3 separate regions of the Homo sapiens genome follow, and regions 1 and 3 are each reported to be linked to region 2. The links are microRNA targets in miRTarBase. Many come from high-throughput screens and were not tested one by one. Region 2 holds a microRNA gene; each other region holds the end of a gene's coding sequence.
Evidence for each region. Region 2 holds the annotated microRNA hsa-miR-548t-3p (AAAAACCACAAUUACUUUUGCACCA, at 4,738-4,762, shown strand). A microRNA usually pairs through its seed, bases 2 to 8, with sites in the 3' UTR of a target mRNA and lowers its output. Matches are read on the target gene's strand: a 7mer-m8 pairs with bases 2 to 8, a 7mer-A1 pairs with bases 2 to 7 and ends in A, and an 8mer does both.

Region 1: the mRNA of RWDD2A is a reported target of hsa-miR-548t-3p. Seed matches in the 3' UTR shown: 8mer at 2,668-2,675 and 7mer-A1 at 3,373-3,379.
Region 3: miRTarBase lists GPR85 as a target of hsa-miR-548t-3p. Seed matches in the 3' UTR shown: 7mer-m8 at 1,843-1,849.

The regions. Positions count from the first base shown.
Region 1 is chr6:83,195,066-83,203,197 of GRCh38, forward strand. RWDD2A (RWD domain containing 2A) reads left to right here. Exons shown (of 3, transcript NM_033411.5): 3 at 530-3,870. The coding sequence ends at 1,207. Among named protein-coding and RNA genes, the nearest start is that of RWDD2A, 5.8 kb to the left of the region's middle.
Region 2 is chr17:67,466,806-67,474,937 of GRCh38, forward strand. It overlaps MIR548AA2 (microRNA 548aa-2), which reads left to right and starts at 4,684; the gene lies at 4,684-4,780. The region is part of intron 1 of PITPNC1 (phosphatidylinositol transfer protein cytoplasmic 1); the gene reads left to right. It overlaps MIR548D2 (microRNA 548d-2), which reads right to left and starts at 4,780; the gene lies at 4,684-4,780.
Region 3 is chr7:113,076,642-113,084,773 of GRCh38, reverse strand. It overlaps GPR85 (G protein-coupled receptor 85), which reads left to right. Exons shown (of 3, transcript NM_001146267.2): 3 at 1-2,489. The coding sequence starts at 53. The coding sequence ends at 1,165. Among named protein-coding and RNA genes, the nearest start is that of GPR85, 6.1 kb to the left of the region's middle.

The DNA of each region.
Region 1 (8,132 bases), not on the chromosome of region 2:
ATTTACCTCCATCTTCTGATCCATTTATCTCCAGCAACATTAGCATAGCATAGGTAATACGTGGACTGGGCATTTGAGAACCACTGTTGTAGCTATTTCCTACTCATCCTTCAGTTGTTATTCCCTCAGAGGAGACTTTCTGGTTCTCCAGACTGGATTCTGTCCCGCTGGTTACACACTTCAATGGAACCCTCCACTTTTCCATGGTAATGCTTTTCACAATTGAAATTAAATACTTGCTATATGTAATTATTTGTTTAATGTGTGTCTCCTTCACTAGGCCCTGGACTTCATGAAGGGCAAAAATAGTGTCTGGTTTATTCACTTTTTTATCCCAGCACAAGGGCACCTGGCACACGTAGTTGTTCAATAAATATTGAAATAATGCATAAAAGGAAGCAATCATGTATGTAAAGTACCTGGTACATTTAATAGTAGCAATAACATTTCTCAAAATCATGCAGTTGCTATTGATAAACTAGCTTATGTGATGTTATGGTATTTAAATCTATTTGATTTTCATTTTAAGGTGAAAATTGATTTGCAAGTGACCATGCCTCACAGCTACCCCTATGTAGCATTGCAGCTGTTTGGACGGTCATCTGAACTTGACAGACATCAGCAGCTACTTCTCAACAAAGGTCTCACTTCTTACATAGGGACTTTTGATCCAGGTGAGCTCTGTGTATGTGCAGCAATCCAGTGGCTACAGGACAACAGTGCATCTTATTTCCTGAACAGAAAGCTTGTATATGAACCATCTACACAAGCAAAGCCAGTCAAGAACACATTCCTCCGAATGTGGATCTACAGTCACCATATATATCAGCAGGACCTAAGGAAAAAGATTTTGGATGTTGGGAAAAGGTTAGATGTGACTGGATTTTGCATGACAGGAAAGCCTGGTATAATCTGTGTGGAGGGTTTCAAAGAGCACTGTGAGGAGTTCTGGCACACAATTAGGTACCCCAATTGGAAGCACATTTCCTGTAAGCATGCTGAAAGCGTGGAGACAGAAGGAAATGGTGAGGACCTGCGCCTTTTCCATTCTTTTGAAGAGTTACTCCTTGAGGCTCATGGTGACTATGGATTAAGGAATGACTATCACATGAATCTGGGCCAATTCTTAGAATTTCTCAAGAAGCACAAAAGTGAGCATGTTTTTCAGATACTATTTGGTATTGAAAGCAAAAGTTCAGACTCATAAAAAGCGATTAAGAGGCCTATGCCTGTAATTTCACTAAGTCAGTATTTCTGTTAATAAGACCAAATTAAAAAGGCTAGTGGCTGTGTAGCATCCTCAGTGCAAAACCCAGCTCCAGAATTTTCACCTGGTAACGAATTTCAACTGACAGTGAAATGAATAGGCCTTTAAACTTTATAACATTGCAATTGTGATGTTATCTCTAGGTTTTTGTGTGAAGTCATTCAAAAACTATTTCATTGTAAATTAATAAAAACAATCCATTTAACTTGTGAAGCTGATTTGATTGAAGAGGAATCCAAAGCCCATAACTAACATCAAAAATCAAACTGCAATTATGAATTGAGAAATATGAATAGCATTTGTTTCACATTGCTAGCACACATGTGACACACCCACTTGTCTTTCATTATTGGAAATCTAAATCAAGTTTAAAATGAGAACAGGAAGGACATGTTTACTTCCTTTTTTGAGACGGTGCGATCTCGGCTCACTGCATCCTCAGCTTCCCAGGTTCAAGCGATTCTCCTGCCTCAGCCTCCCAAGTAGCTGGGACTACAGGCGTGCGCCACCACGCCCAGCTAATTGTTATATTTTTAGTAGAGACAGGGTTTCATCATGTTGGCTAGGATGGTCTCAATCTCTTAACCTCGTGATCTGCCTGCCTCGGCCTTCCAAAGTGCTGGGATTACAGGTGTGAGCCACCGCGCCCAGCCCGTTTACTTCATTTCTTACTTTAAACTCCTATTTCGAGTGTTTTAGTAAAACTAGATCCTAATAGCAGTGGCAAAGGACTCATAGACATGAAGTCCCACGAGTTAAAAGATGACACACAATGCTATGTGTTCTGGCTGTTTATATCAGTTCATGATACTAGCAATCCTGATACCAGTATTAGTTTAATTCTTATCCAGAAAAGATAAACACATGGTTCCTTGTCTACAAAGTATTCGCCTGTTTCAATCCAACCTTTGCCTGTGTGCCAGTATGCATTACTATAAAGGGCAAGAGACTGTTGAGGGGACCAGTGTGGATATCTGCATCATTACCTTATTGGGAAAAAAAAAATCTAATTCTACAGTCCGATGATGTTACTGCCATCTCCTCTGAAAATTCCAAGCTCCACAGGCTTCACCAGGCTTTTCAAAATGAGAGTTTATTTTAATGATTAAAAACCGCTATTTAAGTAGCTCTTGCCAAGCCTTTTCATTACCAGGTCTCCATCCCTCCCCAAGTATTTCTGCGAGTCTCATGTGCTAAGAGATGTCTTGAGCAGCCTCTGCAGCTTTCCGTGTTTCTGTGGTCAGCTACTGCTGCCCTTTCCCGGGAGGCATTCCATTCTCCTACTGGGTCCTCTCAAGATGCCAAAGCTTGGTGCTGGGATTTAGGAACACATCCTGTTAGATGTCAGACAGTGCTGCTTGTGCTGGGGAGCCTACAGAACTTCTGATGAAACTACCATCTGGTTTTACCCTCTGTGCCGTGGATGCAGACGTGTCCTTGGGCTACAGAGAGGACATGATGGAGCAGGAGGCCCTATCCCAAGGAGGTGTTAGAACTGGGTCCACTTTGTACTGCCTCTTTCTTCTTAGGTCACAATGAGTGTCCTCTCAGGGCACAACTCAGATCTTCAACCCATGGCTCGCTGTAGGCCTGCCCCGCCAGGTCCTCCAGCTTGCCATTCATGTTTCCATCCTAGCCTTGGTTGTGCTGGAACTCAGGCTGGAGCCTGACACTTTGCCTATATGCAAAGGGAAGAAATAGGACTTACATTGCCAAGGAATCACTTCTTAATGTTTGCCAGCACTAAAAACAACAAAGTATAGGAATCTTTTTCCCCCACAGTCTCCACAAAGCTATCAATAAGTATAATTCGCATTTACAAGTTTTAGGCCTTCAACAGATGTAACTCCATCCAAATGAATCAATATGTGCCATCAACCTACCTTATAGAGGTGTTTTTCCTGATTACATGAGCAAAAGTAGCTACAGAAAGATGGGTGTAAAGAAAAGGCAATAAATTCTAGGTTATGAACTCTACTGCTTCTGGAGCTATTTCTGAGATTTTTCAGAACCTACTTTTTTATAAATAAGTCTAATTTGAGCATTCTGCAATACTTTTTTTCCTATCAGGAAAACTAATGCAGATAGTATTATGGGGACGTGTAGGTTTTATAGAAAAAAAAAGTACATGTATAATTCAAAACTCAACTTTGTATGTATAGGAGTCTGCTGGTTGTTTGCACAGCCTGATATGAGCACATAATAAAAGTCCGTCATTCCCCAACCCCCTCCCCCTACACACACAGCTTATTTTGGGAAACTGCCCCTTCCCTGTGTGATTTGGGAAGAGAAAGTGATAGGAATCAAGTTGTCCTCTGGCAGCCTCCTGGAGAGATGGCTGTGAGCTCTTGCTGCTTAAACCTCTAGTGCCACCCTCATTTCTGACCTACTGAATGCTCAGCTGTTTGGCATTTCCTTTGAATGACCCAGCATCTTCCCTTTTGTTGTCGGAAATCAGAATCAGTCTCTATTGCTTGTAACTTAAGAATCTGGATATTCTGTTTATTATATTCTTAAATGGTTATTTGGAAAATGTGCTCATTTATAAAAGTTACAGTGTCTTTTTAAAGTTTGCTGAAGTAAATGAAGCATATCGTCAAGTATGTTCTTTGCTTTTCATTCCTTACTGGTCTATTATGTGTTAGGCTAAGAGCTGAGGACACCTGCATAGTGAATTGAGTAGGCCAGATGAGTTGGCAGACCACAACACAGGGACCTCTAAAACATTCCTTATTAAATCAAACATACATTGCCTGTGAACTTGAGCGTTCACATATAACTCCTTACATGCCATCCATCCCCTCTCAGAACCTGAGAAGGTTCTGATGGTGTCTGTCTGCAGCCTTCATGGAACCCTTTTGAACAGGTTTTTTTCACTTGCTTTTATCTCAAGTAGCCCAGTAGTAAGTCAAAAGAATAGTTATTGTCTGAAGAGGGCACAGTGTTGCTCACACTTCCTGGTTTTATACATAATCCTGATTTGCCACAGAAACTCTGAGCCCATTGGCTTTCCCTCATAAGGTCCACATGGTGGAACTAATTTCACCATAGCCTGGACCAGCTAGAGAGACCTCTCTTTCTGATCCCAGTCAAAACTAGATGCATTTGGGTCAACCCCCGAATGAATTTGAGCAGGGTACACAGAATTTAAGTAAGCCCACTGTATTAGCTCATTCTTATGCTGCTAATAAAGACATACCCGAGACTGGGTAGTTTATAAAGGAAAGAGGTTTAATGGACTCACAGTTCCACATGGCTAGGGAGGCCTCACAATCACAGCAGAAGACGAAGGAAGAGCATAGGGATATGTTACATAGGGGCAGGCAAGAGATCTTGTGTAGGGGAACTCCCCTTTATGAAGCCACCAGATCTCGTGACACTTATTCACTACCACGAGAAGTATGGGGTAAACCACCCCCATGATTCAATTATCTCCACCTGGTCCTGTCCTTGACACATGGGGATTATTACTATTCAAGGTGAGATCTGGATAGGGGCACAGCCAAACCATATCACCCACCAAACCCTGGGAGTTCTCCTTAGTTATAGAAGGAACAAAGTACACAATTTGTTCCTCACAATGAAGGGGAAATCCCAGCATGTACCAGACACTGGACTTCTACAAAACTTGGCTGCAGGCTCTGTGCTTTCATGGGATTTATCGTTCACCCTCTGGGATGACACATCTTACTAGGCATCCAGGAAACATGACTCCATTCTCCAAGTCCAATCAGAATATCACCTGGAGGCATACAGCATGCTGCCCTGTATAGTGGTAAGCTGATCAAAGGTCTGATATCGAGACTGATATTCTGACATAGAAAGTTAATGTAATGTTGGAAAAAGACAATCTACATTGCTGCTTACTGAGATAAAGAAAATGCTTCAAGTGGTCTTTACTTACTGGAATAAAGGAAAAACAAAAAAGCATTGACCAAATCAGTAGCCAGCTACTTTCTGATTTGCTCCAAGAAAAAAGAACTTATATGACAGCAGCTGCAGTTGGAATCACCATCTGCTTAAGTTTCGGAATATGTGCAGCCATTCTATTTTTTTGAGACGGAGTCTTGCTCTCTCGCTCTGTCACTCAGGGTGGAGTGCAGTGGCCCAATTTCAGCTCAAAGCAAACTCTGCCTCCCGGATTCAAGTGATTCTCATGCCTCAGCCTCCCAAGTAGATGGGATTACAGGTGTATGCCACCACGCCTGGCTAATTTTTGTATTTTTAGTAGAGATGGTTTTTCGCCATGTTGGCCAGGCTGGTCTCGAATCCTGGCCTCAAGTGATCTGCCCATCTCAGCCTCCCAAAGTGCTGGGATTACGGGTGTGAGCCACTGAGCCCAGCCTGTGAAGTCATTCTTAGAGACCCATCTGTCTCCTCCTACATATGCCAAAGATCATGCTAAAGCAAGATGTGATAAGAATCACACTCCTGCTGCTTTCAAAGCTTTTGATGGTGGGACTCATCTCTGCAAATCTCTTCATACTTCCTGAGAGAATAACCCTCTTTTTATGGATCAGGGATCCAATGTGGGTATATTGCCACAGAGGATGAAGAAATAAATTATAACTCTTTACTGGAAAAATAAGTGGGGGATGGGTTTATTCCTATAGCATATACTTTGTTCTATAGACCACAGTGGTTTCAGAGACCCGAGAAATTTATATTTGTTCAGAGCTGTTCCCAGATGACCTCCAAAAGGCCTAATAGTTTTTCCTTTCTGCAGTGCATTGTTATCTTAGCAAATGGGAGCCTCAAAAAAGATTTTGGAAACATTTATGATATAATTACAGAGTTCTGCATCTTTAGGGGTCTTTCATTCATATCTGTTTGTGGCAATTTGGTGACACTGTATCTTGGTGGCTCCAGTCAGGCTTTTCTGCTATTGTTATATATATCAAGTGGGGCGTATGTTGTTGCTAATGTATTTGGTCCTAGGCCAGGCTGGGATATAGCTGGTATGTACTGGCATGGCTGTATCAATTTTATACAATGGTATCAATTTTTCTTGGTTAGTATGTATGCTGCCTCATTAATTTTTTGAACAGCATTTCAGGCCAGGAGGCCCCGTGTTATCCACAACCAAGGTTTCTGTGGGCTGAACTCTTGATTACACTGGACCTCCTCCTATTACAATCACTGTTTTCACCTTGTCTCCAGTTGTTAATTGCTACTAAATGCTATTAAGCCTGTACCAAACCCAAGAGTCTGATTTCTCCATTGAAATCAGGAAAGCCTTTTAACCATAACATTTTCCCAAGCCTTCCTAGCTTAAAGAGAAGTATCATTAAAATGCTTTTCATGGATGTTGGTACTCCCCTCACCAGTGTTATTTCTCTCAAGGCCTTAGTGAAAGGAGGGTCACTGATAGGTCCTCCAAGGAGACTTAGGAGATCAATAGATTAGGACAGTCATATTGCACACAACAATTCCACTCCAACATTCCTATCTTTGTAAATATTTGAATGGCTTTATATTATTTAAGGAATGTTTGCATTCTCAATTTCATTTAATGTGGACCCTTATTAAGTTCATGTTTCACTCAACTAACTGAACCAACAAGTAGAATCACCCCCAGCTGCTCAAGGCAGCGCACAGAATCCAGAATCTGTGGCAAGTGTACCCTATCATCATTTCTGCCTTATCCAAAATTACAGTTCTCCTTGTGAGTGTAACGTTCTGAGAATCCCACACATTTTTCTCTGGGCTTTTGCCAATATATGTGAGCAGAGTCTAGAATTTTTTTGGCGTAAGTCTCCTCCTTCTGGATTTGCCTTTTAAATTACTAGCCACCACAGCCCTTCTCATGCTGGAATCTGATTTGGGGTGTACGGAAATAATGTGAATAATGGAGGAGGAGCGTAGGCCTCCCTTTACAATTGGTTTCTCTTTACAAGGTAATTATTACCTCAGGTGAGGTCATTACAGGATCTTCTAGCAAGGCAGTAACAACTTCTTTAGACGGGAAGAGATCCTGCTTTGATTAGCAAAGGAGAACATGTCAACTATCCCAGTTTTCCTGGGACTGAGGGGTTTCCTGGGACACAGGACTTTCACTTCTGAAACCTGGACTATTGTTCTCCCTAGTTTAGGATATTATGAGTCCTCCAAATCCCCTTCCCCATTCCAAATCAAGGTCCTACTGTTTCTTGGTCAATACTCTAAGTTTGACATAAGAGGCCTAATGAGGATGTCAGTTTAACTCAGGGTATTAATATAATTTGGCAAGCAGCAAGATTAAGTATGACCATGGTTTTCAATTATTTCAGCATTATAACTAGAAAGAGAGAAAATATGTTGTTAGCAAAAACATGGGGCTTTTTCTGGTTTTTAGATTGAGAATTCAGTCTAAAATTTTTGAGCTGAGGATTTCAGACTCAAGCCTAAATTATCTTTCTTTATGTATCCATCTCTGCTAGAAGCAACCACCGCAACTCACAGTCCTAGAATTCCTTGTCCTTTACACTGTATTATGGCAGCAGCCATCTGATCCACCTAAACCTTCCCTTCCTTAGATAATATATCCCATTTTACCTCATAGTTGTGTTTATGAGGTCCCAAACATATTTTGCTACATTGATTTTCATTAACTTTATATTTTTACCATTCATACCTAGGTCTCTAATCGATCTGGAGTCTACCTTTTCACATAGTGTAAGGTAGGGTTCTAGTTTTAATTTTCTCCATGTTGTGGGCCAGTTTTTCCAGTCCTTTTACCAAGCATTCTGTTCTTTATCTATTGATTTTTGTGCTAGCTTGCCGTATTAGTCCGTTCTCACGCTACTAATAAAGACATATCCGAGACTAGGTAATTTATAAAGGAAAAGAGGTTTAATTGACTCACAGTTCAGCATGGCGGGGACGT
Region 2 (8,132 bases):
CTTGATCCTCTCTTTCAACTACTTCATTCCAACTGTTGGAATACCTCAGTAGTGAGTATTAATTTTCTTCCCCCCCAAATCCAGCAAGCAATCTAGCTCCTTAAGAGAAGACTATGTTCCTGCTATTAACAGGGCTTTGACTGTTTTTGCAAAATAATAACTGGGCATTCTTGTGTTAAGGACCATTTGTTTCCTTCACCTGCTTTTCTTCCCAATTTAGCTGAAAAGGGACCTGAGCCAGTTAGGAGATTTTTTTTTTTTTTTTTTTTTTTGAGATGAATCTTGCTCTGTCACCCAGGCTGGAGTGCAGTGACATGATCTCGGCTCACTCTCAGGTTCAAGTGATTCTCCTGCCTCAGCCTCCCAAGTAGCTGGGATTACAGGTGTGCACCACCATTCTTGGCTATTTTTTGTGTGTGTGTGTTTTTAGTAGAGATGGGGTTTCACCATGTTGGCCAGGCTGGTCTCGAACTCCTGACCTCAGGTGATCCACCCGCCTCAGCCTCCCAATGTGTTGGGATTACAGGCATGAGCCACTGTGCCCCGCTGGAGACTTTTTTTTTCTGAACTAAAATATCTTTTCAGATACAAGGTTCAGGGAGGGTGGTGTGGACCAGTGAGAGAAGTTTCATTTGCACCTTTTTCATTTTTATTCTGATCCAGAGTGACTGGAGTATTAATGGATGTTGTCATAGGCTTTTGAAGTGGCCTTGCTTGGTGATTGAGTGGCTCTCGCAAAATTCTGAATTTTGGAACCAGGTATTGCTTTCTAGCTATACTAACATGTCCCTTTAGGAGTCTAATGAGATCTGCTTTGCCTCTGCCCCAAACAGATTTGCTTTACAAGTTACTGTCACTCAGGGCAAGCTCCAAGCTCTGTATCTAAAAAGCAAAGCCACCTGCCAGCCACAACCAGGTGCATGTTGCCTTTGGGCCTTGTGTCAAAATATCTTCATCATCTAAGAATAAAACCCCCAAAGAGGTCAGCCTGATCTTGTAGAAAGCCGTCCCTGGGAAAATGATTAAATGTCAGTAAACAAGAGCATTTCAGAAACTGACATGGTCCCTAATGTTTGTGTTTAGAGACTCCTAATGTGTCAGAATTGAGTTGGAGACTTACGATGTAATTGCATGTCTTGTATTTCATGCCAGCCTCTCGGCTTGGTGCTGGGGCAGAGTGGGAAGCAGACCACAGAGCAGAGAGGGCCTCTGCCCTTTTATTGTCCTGTGAGAGAGATGGATATTCACAAATAATCCTGTCCCTAATTAATTGCAGCTGAGATAACCATTATAAAAGAAACTAGAGAGTGTGACAAGGGGTGACTATCTCTTGGTCTTGGTTGTCAGGCAATGCTATGGAAGGGTTATTTAGAGTCGTAGAAGTGTCTAGTACAACCACCAGCTGATGAAGATAGTACAGGAGGAAGCAGGCATGTTTGAGACATGGTGAGTTTCAGGCTCAATTAAGGAGCTGGAGATAGCTACCAGCTGTTAGCAACACTGGGGGCGTGCAGGAGCAGCATCAGGGACAGATTTGGGAGTCCCTTGGGGAAGCCGTGGTGAAGCCACAGGAATGAACAGGTGGCTTTCTTTCCTTTTTTTTTTTTTTTTTTTGAGATGGAGTCTCACTCTGCCGCCCAGGCTGGAGTGCAGTGGCATGATCTCGGCTCACTGCAAGCTCTGCCTCCCAGGTTCTGGCCATTCTCCTGCCTCAGCCTCCCGAGTAGCTGGGACTACTGGTGCCCACCACCACGCCCAGCTAAATTTTTTTGTAGTTTTAGTAGAGACGGGGTTTCACCGTGTTAGCCAGGAGGGTCTCGATCTCCTGACCTCGTGATCCGCCCACCTCAGCCTCCCAAAGTGCTGGGATTACAGGTGTGAACCACCGTGCCTGGCCGCTTTTTTTTTTGAGACGGAGTCTTGTTCTGTTGCCCAGGCTGGAGTGCAGTGGCACTATCTCGGCTCACTGCAACCTCTGCCTCCCAGGTTCAAGCGATTCTCCTGCCTCCACCTCCCAGGTTCAAGCGATTCTCCTGCCTCAGCCTCCCAAGTAGCTGGGATCACAGGCACCCACCACCACGCCTGGCTAATTTTTGTATTTTTAGTAGAGACGAGGTTTCGCCATGTTGGCCAGGCTGGTCTCAAACTCCTGACCTCAGGTGATTCGCCTGCCTCGGCCTCCCAAAGTGTTGCAATTACAGGAGTCAGCCACTGCGCCTGGCCCAGGTGACTTTCTTGAGAGAGTATGGAGAGGGATCTGGGAGAATGTCTGGATGAAACCTTCTTTAAGGGCCTGTCACCTACATGCAATAAAGACCATACTAATTGTAATAAGACCATTGTTTACTTTTTGTTCCCCAACTGGTGCAATTTTCCCAGTCCCTGTAGTAGCCCCAGGATGGCTCAGAAACTGTCTGGGTTCCTGCTGTAGACACTGTGAGAACTTCCTTTCCAAGTGTAGCCAAGCACCCGCCCCACTGCTGCAGCCTGTGCCATCCTCCCCCTTCTCTGCACACATTGCATATCCCTGTGGTCTCCGTTTTGAGCTCAGAGTGTGGGCCTCCAACCCTCAGCACCGTATCACTCCGTAGCTTATTAGAAATGCAGAATCTGCAGCCCCCGCCCAGCTTGCTGAATCAGCCTCTGTGTTTTAACAAGATCCCCGGGATCTGTCTGCCTGTTGACAAGGGAGAAGCCTGGTCTCGGTTACCTCCTCCTCAGCGTCCTGAGCCTGGCTGGATCGCCAGCACACTCAGACCAGCGGCCCCAGGCTCTTGTGACAGCAGCCGTCAGACCCGTGGGAGTTCAGGTGCGGGTCATCAGGGCCCTGCTGGCTACTCCACCTCTCTGGGTCCCTCAGCTCAGAGATTCCACTTGAGTGTAGAGAGAATTGTTCCCCTCTGCTCTGGTGCCCTCTTTGCACTAATGTTTAGGGACCTAGAAAGGGCATCAGGAAATAAGACAGAACAAAAGCCACCAAGAGGAAGAAGGAAATTCAAGTGCCATAGCTATAGAGAGGCTCAGGAGGATAAAAACAAAGCAATAGCAGGGGCTGAGAGATTTTTTAAAAATCAGCTTTACTGTGATATATAATATATATATGTGTGTGTATATGTATATATATAATTTTTTTTTGAGACAGAATCTTGTTTTGTCATCCAGGCTGGAGTGCAGTTGTGCAATCTCAGCTCACTGTAACCTCCGCCTCCTGGGTTCAAGCGATTCTCCTGCCTCAGCCTCCCAAGTAGCCAGGATTATAGGCACACACCACCACACTTGGCTAATTTATGTATTTTTAGTAGAGATGGGGTTTCACCATGTCGGCCAGGCTGTTTTCAAGCTCCTGACCTCGAGTGATCTGCCCACTTTGGCCTCCCAAAATGCTGGGATTACAGGCATGAGCCACCACACCTGGCCATATTGTGATATAGCTAACATAGAATAGAACTCACTTTAAGTGTACAGCTTGATGAGTTTTAACATATATATACACACACTGTAGTCATGTAACCACTGCCCCATCAAGATACAGAACATTTCATCACCCCTAGAACTTCCCTTGTGACTTTTAGCTGTCAATTACTTCTCTCTACCCCCCACATTCCCCACTCCTGTTCCTAACAAGCACTGATCTGCTTTTGCACTAAAGTCTTGCCTTTCTTAAAGTTTCCTATAGATGCAGTCATACAGATGTAGTCTCTTGTGTCTCACTTCTTTTGCTCAACACAATGTTTTTGAAATTCATCCATATTCCCCGTCCGGGAGGGAGGTGGGGGGGGTCAGCCCCCCTGCCCGGCCAGCCGCCCCGTCCGGGAGGTGAGGGGCACCTCTGCCCGGCCGCCCCTACTGGGAAGTGAGGAGCCCCTCTGCCCGGCCACCACCCCGTCTGGGAGGTGTACCCAACAGCTCATTGAGAACAGGCCAGGATGACAATGGCGGCTTTGTGGAATAGAAAGGCGGGAAAGGTGGGGAAAAGATTGAGAAATCGGATGGTTGCCGTGTCTGTGTAGAAAGAAGTAGACATGGGAGACTTTTCATTTTGTTCTGCACTAAGAAAAATTCCTCTGCCTTGGGATCCTGTTGATCTGTGACCTTACCCCCAACCCTGTGCTCTCTGAAACATGTGCTGTGTCCACTCAGGGTTAAATGGATTAAGGGCGGTGCAAGATGTGCTTTGTTAAACAGATGCTTGAAGGCAGCATGCTCGTTAAGAGTCATCACCAATCCCTAATCTCAAGTAATCAGGGACACAAACACTGCGGAAGGCCGCAGGGTCCTCTGCCTAGGAAAACCAGAGACCTTTGTTCACTTGTTTATCTGCTGACCTTCCCTCCACTATTGTCCCATGACCCTGCCAAATCCCCCTCTGTGAGAAACACCCAAGAATTATCAATAAAAAAATAAATTAAAAAAAAAATGTAAAAAAAAAAAATGTAAAAAAAAAAAAAAAAGAAATTCATCCATATTATTGGATGTATCAATAGTTTGTTCCTTTTTATTGCATAGTAGCATTCCCCTGAATGGATATACCACAGTCTGTTTATTCATTTACCAGTTGATGGACATTTGGGTTACTTCCAGTTTTGGATGATTTTGAGTAAAGTTGCAATGAACATTCACATACAAGTCCTTGTGTGGACCTACGTCTTCATTTGAGAGATTTTTTTCCTTTTAAACTTTTTATTTTATTAGGTTGGTGCAAAAGAAACTGTGGTTTTTGCCATTACTTTCAATGGCAAAAACCACAATTACTTTTGCACCAACCTAAATCTTCCCTCTCTCTGGATTTGCAATTATTCTGTAAATCTAAAGTTAACTTTAGCTAAATCAGGTTGACATCATATACCCCCTAAAGTTAACTTTAGATTTACAGAAGAGTTGCAAATCCAGAGAACCCCCCGTAGTCTTCATCCACCTTCCCCCAATGTTAATATCGTACTAATTATGATACATTTATCAAAACTCAAAAATTAACATGGGCACAGTTGTATTAACTAAACTCCCGACTTTCTTCAGATTTCACCAGTTTTTTCCACTAATGTCCTTTTTCTGTTCCAGGATTTAATCAGGATATAATGTTGCACTTAATTATTATATCATAATAGTCACTTTCAATCTATGTCAATTTCTCTGTCTCTCCTTGTTTTTTTATGACTTTGACATTTATGAAGTGGGCTGGTCAAGTATTTTGTAGGATGTCCCTCAATCTGGATTTGTCTGATGTTTTCTGATCATTAGACTGCAGTTGGGGTTTGGGGAAAGAATACCCCAGAGGTGAAATGGCCTTCTCATCACATAATATTAGGGGGCACATGATATCTACCTGATTGCTCACTGGTGAAGTTAACCTTGATCACTTGGTTAAGGCGTTGTCTACCAGAGTTACCCACCGTAAGCTGCTAATTTCCCTTTCCATACTCTGTTCCAGGGGTGTCCAATCTTTTGGCTGCCCTGGGACACATTGGAAGAAGAATTGTCTTGGGCAACACATAAAATACATCATTAACACTATGACAGCTGTTGAGCTAAAAAAAAAAAAAAAAAAAAAAAAAAAAAAAAGGACCGGGTGCGGTGGCTCACACCTGTAATCCCAACACTTTGGGAGGCCGAGGCGGGTGGGTCACGAGGTCAGGAGATCGAGACCATCCTGGCTAACACAGTGAAACCCCATCTCTACTAAAAATAGAAAAAATTAGCCGGGCGTGGTGGTGGGCGCCTGTAGTCCCAGCTACTCAGGAGGCTGAGGCAGGAGAATGGTGTGAATCCAGGAGGAGGAGTTTGCAGTAAGCCGAGATTGCACCACTGCACTCCAGCCTGGGTGACAGAGGGAAACTCTGTCTCAAAAGAAAAAAAAAAAAAAAGGTCTGTGCATAAATATCATAATGTTTTAAGAAAGTTTATGAATTTGTGTTGGGCCACATTCAAAGCTGTCCTGGGCCACGGGTTGGACAAGCTTACCGTCTATTCATTAGAAGTGAGTCACTCAGGGGAGGGAGATTAGGCCCTGCCTCCTACAGGGAGGGGTTTCAAAGAATTTGTGGACATATGCTAAAACCAGCACCATAATTAATGTGGTATTTTTTTTTTTTTGACGGAGTCTTGCTCTGTAGCCCAGGCTGGAGTGCAGTGGCCTGATCTCGGCTCACTGCAAGCTCTGCCTCTCAGGTTCATGCCATTCTCCTGCCTCAGCCTCCTGAGTAGCTGGGACTACAGGTGCGCACCACCATGCCCAACTAATTTTTTTGTATTTTTAGTAGAGAAGGGGTTTCACCATGTTAGCCAGGATGGTCGCGATCTCCTGACCTCGTGATCCACCCGCCTTGGCCTCCCAAAATGCTGGGAATACAGGTGTGAGCCACCGTGCCCGGCCAATTAATGTATTTTTATTATTTTAAAAGTTATTCTTATTTTTAGAGATAGAGTCTCACTATGTTGCCCATGCTGGTCTTGAACTCCTGGGCTCAAGCTGTCTACCCACCTCGGCCTCCTAAGTGCTGGGATTATAGGCGTGAGCCACTTTACCTGGCCTGCTTGTTTTTTTGAGACAGAGTCTCGCTCTGTCGCCCAGGCTGGAGTTCAGTGGCACAATCTCGGCTCACTGCAAGCTCCACCTCCTGGGTTCACGCCATTCTCCTGCCTCAGCCTCCCGAGTAGCTGGGACTACAGGCGCCCGCCACTACATCCGGCTAATTTTTTTGTATTTTTTTAGTAGAGACGGGGTTTCACCGACCTCGTGATCTGCACGCCTCAGCCTCCCAAAGTGCTGGGATTACAGGTGTGAGCCACCGCCCCCGGCCCTGGTGTGCTTTTTAATATTTTTTGGAGATGGGGTCTTGTTATGTTTCCCAGGCTGGCCTTGAACTCCTGAGCTCAAGTGATGCTCATGCCTCAGCCTTCAGAGTAGCAGGCATTACAGGTGCATGCCACCTCACCTGGCTAATAAATGTTTTTGGAGGGATGTGTTGAGCCTATGCAGGTATCCTGTTTCCCCTTAAAGTTTGCCCATGAACTTAACATTCCTCAGTGGACCCTGCCTGCAGCTATTATTACTGTAATGTTCTCCTGGTGATTTTCTATTCTCCCATGCCTTCTGCCTTTATTACATGGAATTCTTCTGTAAGGGAAATTTGTTTCTTCTCCAGGTATTTGTTTATCTATCCTCTCATTTATTTATATCAGTGTGGACTCACAAGTACTTATTTTATTCTCTGGGTGAGAGATGTTTTTAAGATGGGAAAATGGACTACTTTAAGTTAACCTAACTGTGAGCCAGGTAGCAGGAGGTGTGGGGAGGAGGAGCATAGATGCTGGGGGAGGAATGGGCGGTGGATGGAGCGAAGTTCCTAGGAAGGTCAGTGAGAAGGAGATCCGGAGGTGGGGGTCTTGGCAAAAACAAGGGACACCCTGTTCCCACAAATGGGTAAGAGGAAAGTTTGGGAGGGTCGATTTCCATGTCAGGAAGGAGAACTTGAAGGAGTTCCAACTAATTAGCTTTTGTCTTCTCCGTCAAGATGTTTTCTGTGACGACAATGGGAAGTTGACTTTTGGAATTTTAATTGTCTTGGCCAAAATTCCTGGCCTCTAGAGTAACGTTTCTCAACCTCAGCCCTGCCGACATTTGGAGCAGATAATTCATTGTTGTGGGAGCCGTCTTGTGCATTGCAGGCTGTGTCGCAGCATCCCTGGCCTCTACCCTCTAGATGCTTTAGTGCCCTCTCCTGTTTCCCCAGCAGTGACCACCAAAATGTCTCCAGGCAGTGTCAAATGTGCCCTGGGGAGCAAAATCGCCCCATGCTGAGAACCACAGATCTAAAATTAACACACACAATTCTGGCAATCCGTAGGATTCTTCTTCTCTTTATTTTTATTTTTTTGTCTCCCTCTGTTGCCAAGGCTGGAGTGCAGTGGCATGATCCATAGCTCATTGCAGCCTTGACCTCCCGGGCTCAAACAATCCTCCCACCTCAGCCTCCTGAGAAGCTAGGACTGCAGGTGCACACCACCATGCCCGGCGGCTTTTTTTTTTTTCTTGAAGAGGGGGACTCACTGTGTTGCTCAGGCTGGTCTCAAACTCTTGGGCTCAAGCAGTCCTCCTACCTCAGCCTCCCAAAGTGTTGGGATTATAGGCATGA
Region 3 (8,132 bases), not on the chromosome of region 2:
TATCTAGATCATGAGACTTGACTGAGGCTGTATCCTTATCCTCCATCCATCTATGGCGAACTATAGCCATGCAGCTGACAACATTTTGCAAAATCTCTCGCCTCTAACAGCCTTTCTGAAACTGACTTCCTTGGGTTTCATAATAGGAGTCAGCGTGGTGGGCAACCTCCTGATCTCCATTTTGCTAGTGAAAGATAAGACCTTGCATAGAGCACCTTACTACTTCCTGTTGGATCTTTGCTGTTCAGATATCCTCAGATCTGCAATTTGTTTCCCATTTGTGTTCAACTCTGTCAAAAATGGTTCTACCTGGACTTATGGGACTCTGACTTGCAAAGTGATTGCCTTTCTGGGGGTTTTGTCCTGTTTCCACACTGCTTTCATGCTCTTCTGCATCAGTGTCACCAGATATTTAGCTATCGCCCATCACCGCTTCTATACAAAGAGGCTGACCTTTTGGACGTGTCTGGCTGTGATCTGTATGGTGTGGACTCTGTCTGTGGCCATGGCATTTCCCCCGGTTTTAGACGTGGGCACTTACTCATTCATTAGGGAGGAAGATCAATGCACCTTCCAACACCGCTCCTTCAGGGCTAATGATTCCTTAGGATTTATGCTGCTTCTTGCTCTCATCCTCCTAGCCACACAGCTTGTCTACCTCAAGCTGATATTTTTCGTCCACGATCGAAGAAAAATGAAGCCAGTCCAGTTTGTAGCAGCAGTCAGCCAGAACTGGACTTTTCATGGTCCTGGAGCCAGTGGCCAGGCAGCTGCCAATTGGCTAGCAGGATTTGGAAGGGGTCCCACACCACCCACCTTGCTGGGCATCAGGCAAAATGCAAACACCACAGGCAGAAGAAGGCTATTGGTCTTAGACGAGTTCAAAATGGAGAAAAGAATCAGCAGAATGTTCTATATAATGACTTTTCTGTTTCTAACCTTGTGGGGCCCCTACCTGGTGGCCTGTTATTGGAGAGTTTTTGCAAGAGGGCCTGTAGTACCAGGGGGATTTCTAACAGCTGCTGTCTGGATGAGTTTTGCCCAAGCAGGAATCAATCCTTTTGTCTGCATTTTCTCAAACAGGGAGCTGAGGCGCTGTTTCAGCACAACCCTTCTTTACTGCAGAAAATCCAGGTTACCAAGGGAACCTTACTGTGTTATATGAGGGAGCATCTGTAAATCTTTAGCCTTGTGAAAACTAACCTTCTCTGCTGAGCAATTGTGGCCCATAGCCATATTTTGAGAAGAAATTCAAGAATGGAATCAGCAGTTTTAAGGATTTGGGCAACATTCTGCAGTCTTTGCAATAGTTCACCTATAATCCTATTTTAAATCTCAGAGTGATCCTGCTGACTGCCAGCAAAGGTTTGTAATTAAGAAGGGACTGAACCACTGCCCTAAGTTTCTTTATGTGGTCAAAAACTAGATAATGAAAGTAGCAGGTGCTAAGTATCAGTGCTAAATGCTCTGTATGTCACTACATATGAAAAAACATCAAAAAACAATTAGCATTGGACATCTTAATAAATTAAGTTGACATGAGGTAAATGTGTTGATAAAAACTAATTTTAGAAGTTTGAAGACTTTAAAACATTTCATACTACTATTGTTTTGCAAAGACTAAAATATTTGGGGACTTAAAGTACTGTAATCCACTAAAGACGTGCCAATGAATTATTGGAATATCACACTTTAAAAACCGCCTTGTAAGTTCTGGGGAGCATTCCAAAGCAGTATATTGGTTCCAATTAGAGTTTACTTTTTTTGTATTAATACATTGCTATTTCTAAATACCACTTTCCTCATCTACTAGTAAGATTGCTAGCATTGAACTGTATTATGTGGTTTTTGTTGATTTGGTATAAAGTTTTTCCAATTCATTTATATTTTACAAATGCTAGATATTGGTCTGGGAGGCAACATTAATGGTACCAGCCTGTCACAACTGAGCAGTTCTAATAATGCAGAATAAATACATGTTGCCTTAAAGGGTTATCTAGTATCCTTCATCTTATTTAGCACTGGAGCAAATAGCCAAGGGAAATCAAATCAGTAACTGGTCATGGTCATGCATCTAAAAGTGCATGGAAGATCATTTATTACTTTTTCCTTTTTTCTCACATGGTTTGAAACTTAAAGTGCACATCACTGAAATAATGAGATTTTCTTCTACGGTGTGCTACCCTTTCTAAACTGTTCTAAGAAGCAGGCAGTTGATGTATGTTTATATTTTAAGTCAGCTGTCAAGGGGAGACCACAGCCTTAGTATGACATCCTGCACAATTTGTGAAGCATTTATTCTACTGAAGGCACAGTCTTGTTTATACTTTCTGCACATTCAGTGTATTGGTAATTTAAATTATTTCAGTTTTAACTTGTGAAAGCTTATATTATGATTTCTGGTATTTTAGAAATACATTAGAGTCTGTGAGTCTCATTCTTTAAGATACAGATGTGTGAACTTCAATATAAAGTTGCATTTGCCAAAATTTACCCGTGTAGCCTGTTAATTTTCTTGAAATAAGTTTTACATTTTTGGCACATAACAACTTTTTTTTTAATTTGGGAGGCAAGCACAAACTAGGAAGACTAGCTTTATTATGGTTTTGCTTTTTGATTCTTGTAGCTACTACATTCCAGACTGGAAATGTATGAATGATAATCAACATAATGCTGATAAACTGACATAATATTATCTGTAAAAGCATTATTTGGTAGTTTATTATAATCATCCCTCTATTATTCTTAAATGCCAGTAGTATTTAGAGATGTGTACCTGCTTAGTTAATTGGCTCAGAATTTTAATATAAACATCACACTTTAATTTGGAGCATAGTACCATAGAAATTTGGGGTTCTAAATATACAACTTGTAAGAAGAATGGTTTACACTAACATTATGACAAAACTAGAAAAAGTTATTATTTTTGTTTGCTTTCTGTTGTTTTGTTTATTGGTTGGTTTTTGTGAAGTTTATTTTTTTTTGGTATTTGATAATTAAGATTAGGAATCTAATAACACAGAATTCCATATTGCTATAGTACTTCTGTAAAGAGAATATCAATATAAATAAGGAAAATAAATCAATGAAATGTTTCAATGATATATGCAACTATTCAGTTTTGCTCTTATAAGGACAGCTCAAGCCATGAATTAGTGAGCATTCTGACCTCATTTTTACTTTACACCAAAGTTGATTAGATCTGAGACAAAATTTAATGCACAACAGTGAGTTGGATCTAGCAATAAAGTCTCCTTGGTACTGAAATCATTATCTAAAATAAAGGAAATGTTATCAAAAGATGTTCTGATAACATTGTGATTGTAACTCAAAAAAATTTATAGTAGAAACGTAATTGCAATGATGATAATAACTAACTCTGCTTAGAGGTTCAAATATCACCAGCAATCAGTAAAAAATTCAGCAATAATCTTAAGGCCAGAGAGAACAGGTTCACCATTGCATAGACAAGAAAACAGATATGGGTTAAGAGTTGGGGACTGAGGAGTCAAGAGCAACGGCCACGTGAAGCTGCCTGACTCCACCTAGCTATTTGGAATAACCGATTCCCACAGTTTTGGTAAGAAACCAGCCCCAGTAATCAGTAAGTCAGGCTGAACTGCAGTGACTTTTATTTAAGCCTACTCCTGACTAACTTGGCATTTGCAGGTCAAGCAGGAAGCAGTTGACAAGACACATCCTCAGTGAATCAATGCCATTTGTAACTCAACTGGTAACAGTAGTAATCATACAAAATAAAAACCTGCTTCAGTGTCTTAATGACCAAATCACATTATCTATTTTAGCACTCATTCCAAAATTCAGTATTTAATGTAATTAATCTTTAATCCATAAAAATACATCCCCACTGTAGCGGGGCAGGGGGTGTCCAACTTCCCTGTGAGACTGATTATCAATAATAATGTGTCTCCCTCTTGGACTGAGCACACATCTGAGCTGAACGGCCTTTAAATTGTTTTTCATAATAGTGGTGATATGTTTGCGTGGATACGTCTGTACTATTTCATCTGGTTCATTTTGCATGTAATAGATTTATCTGTGAGATGCCTGGCTGAAGCTAGGCATTCAGTCTGTGACTGTGGAATCCTATGCAGGTATTAACCAAGGCAGAAAGAGGTGAGTAACTTGCCCATTTCTCCACAGAGACCCCATTTAAATAACACAAAATTGACCACAGTGATTAGATGAAAAAATTATTTGTAGATAGGATAATCTATTGACTGAATTATCTTTTGCAGATATCAGCTGGTTGGATTTCTCACCAGGATTGTCTATAGAAGTTAACTGATTTATGATTGTTAACACATAAATATGGCCACTTATCCATTTGCCTCAACTTCCATGGATGCTACCTGAATTGTTTGTTCATTTATTTACTTTTTCAACAAATATGTGCTGGGTGCTGGGCTTGGTGCTGAGTGCATAGTGGAAAACAAAGCAGAACAGTCTCTCATTTAGATTTCTTAATCTAGTGGGAAAGAAACAATAAATACATAGTAGCAATGAGTTGTGAGTGTTAATATGGTAAAAATTCCCTAAGAAGAACTTGGTCATAATGGCCATAAATGGACTGTTCTCCATTTTCACTTCAGTGCCTTATCACCTATCTTTGCCCAGTGTTATTTGGGATCTCGTATATATTATACATACTCCCTCAACTGAGAGGGAACCCCCTCATTCTATTCAAAGCACCAGGAACCTTTCACCCACACTTACACGAATCAGCGTGTTGTATTTTAGAACCAGCTCCCATGTAGTTAATTCTATCTACATAATAACAGCAAAATCTATTTTCCCTTCCAAAGTTCCCTTCATATCCCAACTATCCACTTCCAAAACAGAGATATTTCAATTGCTTTAAGAGACATGGAGGTGTCTTTTCTGACATACTCACATGTTCCTGCAAGATAGGATGAAAATGCGTGGGTAAAATGCAATCAAAGGAATGACTTATTTGTGTGCATCTTACGATGACTTGCGGGGGCCCTCCCAAGTAACTTGTGAAACAGGGTGCATATCTTTTATTATTAAAGCATGCCACCCCGTCAATGTTTTTTTTTTGCTCCTTAATTGGAATACAATAAAACTCCCTAATCGCCTATCAGCTGAAAACTTGGTTTGGCCTCCAAAATTTACTTCTATTGTAAGTACAATGAAACTGATTTATAACCATACAGATTACATTTTTCAGCTAAACTGTGTCATAATGAGTTGGGTTGCACCTGGGATTACTGTAGGACAGTTGCAAACAGAGCCAAAACTCTTCACTTCTGTGTATTCACTATTGGATAAATTTACTGGGTTTCATTATTTCATGCCATATGTAGCATAGACTGTATTATTATTATTAAAACAAAAGCAGTTTGCATTAATTTCATATTAAAAAGAAAAGAAAGAAGCTAAGATGATAAATGGTGATGTTTCAAATACTGGCTAAAGACATTAATCAAGGTAGATGGTAACCAGAATTGTGGGTTATTTATGGTTCTAAAACCTTGTGAGTTTATTTTTCTATGCAAAAATATATCATTTTCATGTTTGTTAATATTCTCTTATAAATGTTTTAAATGGAAATTGCAGGATATACTAAGAACTGTTTACTGCTGAAATTTTTTGTTGTTATTGTCAACTGTGGGCATGTCAGCATCTGTGAGTTTTCTAATTCCCTCAGAAACTTTTTTTACACCACATTAAAATGGTAGAATTGCTCAGTTTTGATGCAAAAATTCATAATTAGTCTGTATAGTGGTTAAAATGAAAATAACATTTGCAAATGACTGGAATTTCTTTTTTGGCCATCAGTCAAAACAGTCAAATAAGTTAAAGGCATATTTGAATTGGAGCAACGTAGAGAGAAGTTTTTGTTGTTGTTGTTGTTGTTTTGATAACTGTTTTTGCCTTATGCTGCAATGTAACAGGCTCTAAATAATATATTAAAACCAAAAAAGCTTTAACTGTATGAAAAGATTATATAAACAAGTCCTGGTTTTTAAAATGGGGCAGGAGTTTTACATCATCCCTTTTTGCCAAAGGGATGATGTCCATTAGCTGCTCAATCCCTTTGGGTTAAAAGGCTTTTAAAGCCAGTTTTCCTCTCACCATAACAGGCAGTTATTACAAGGACTGGCTCCCTGAAAGGTCCCCAGAGGAAATCAAGGAGACTGTGTTTCCCTCTGAGTAATTGAAAAAAAAAAAAAAAAAAAGGCCTCAAAGCCACAGGTGGTTTGGGGTTTTGAATTATTCACACCTGACATTCATAGCTGCCTCCTTGGCTCCTTCTGGGGACGTAGGACAACATCGTGCTCAGAAAGACCTAGGTTCCAAGTTCAGCTTGGAGGCAGAAAGCAATTCCTTTTTCTTCTCTCTGTGTTTGGAAAATAATAGATTATTGACACAAATATTAAAACTGATACTGTAATGCATTTCCTGGTTTGTGTGGTTTTGACAGACAATAAAGTAACATTTAACTTATAAGGGTATTCAAGATTATGGGATAAGGAAACAAGTCATTCATTATCCCACAATATAAGGAAGATGACTATAATCCTACAATATAAGGAAAAGTGATTATAATTTTTAAAGCTGAATTGACACTTGAGCTTGAACTAGCTAAAGTTAATTGTTCCTTTTCATAGCTTTCAGGGGGAAAAATCTGACTAAATAGATGAAAAAAGAGTTTGTTCTTTTTCATCCAAAAATTTAAAAGTTAAAAGATCATTTTCTTCTGTGAAAAAGGGAATTTTTGAACATTTTTCTTAAGCATTTTTACTTAGACACAATTCAGTACAACAATCATTTATTGCGCATCTACTGCATGTGTGATTTTGGGCAAGTTATTTAACCTTTCTATTCCTCATCAGTAAAAAGTGGACTGCAATGGTACATATGTCCTAGGGTTTTTGAGAAGATTCAGGGAGTGTGCATCCTTGTGAAGCCCTTAGCAGAGTCTGACATCTTAAATAAATTTCATTTTTTACTGCGTATGAGGGGCTGGCCCTCTCATAGTTCACCATCTAGCAGCAGAGACATCAACAAATTATGAGATGATGTGATAAGTGCTGTAAAGAAGATATGTGAGATAAGTGTTAAAGGAACACAAACAAGCAATTAATTCTGTGAAAGTGGGAGCAGGAAGGTGAGATAGAAAAGGTGACACTTGAACTCAGTCTTGAAGGATAATTTTAATTTAATCTGCTTGACAAAGTTGAGAAAGTCATTTCAGATAGAGGGAATAACAAGGTGAGCAAAAGGCAATGAGATTTGAAAGCTCATAATGTGTTCAACATAGGGATTCACTAATCAGAGAAGTTTATGTGGTGTGGCTGGGATTTAGGTACTGAACTGGGAAGGCCAGCATGGTGTAGAAGTTAAAAAGCGGGACATTTGGAGGTTTAAGTCCTTATTCTGGCCCTTACCAGCTCTATGGTCTTAAGCAAATCAGTTAAACTCTTTGAGTCTCAATTTGCTTATCTGTAAATTGAGGAATAAGTAGTAGCAACATTTTAAGATTTGCTTCGAAGATTAAATGAGATAAAAATATAACTATTATTTATTAAGTACTTACTATGTATCAAGCTCTGTTCTAAACACTTTTCATATATCAACTCAGTTGATTATCACAGTAATTAGATGCTATTATTATCTATACTTCGCAAATGAAGAAACTAAAGCACAGAGAAGTTAAGTAACTTGCGCAGGTTGGCAAAGAATAGCTGTAAATCACTTAGTACAGTAACCAGCACATTGTGAACTTCAGTAAATTCTGGCTATTGTTATTGTTATTACTGCTGCTACTGCTGGTTTTGTTTTGTTTTTTGTTTTGTTTTCTTTTGTTCTTTTTAAATAGCTGGCCAAGGTTAGAGACTAATGGGAGCGGAAGTGACTGAGCAGAAACAAAGCTCCCAGCCTTCAGAATTCACCCCCACCTTGCTGCTCTCTCTCTCCTTTCCCAAGGAGAATCTGAAGGAAGCAAAGAATAGTAGTTCTAATATCCCTCTCTGCCTTCATATAGGATTGTATTACTGCAGAAACAGGAGAATCTATTTGATTTTTCAAATAACTTTTCAGAAGAACGTTGCTTAGATTTTAAAAGTGGGTTACACAGTTCACAC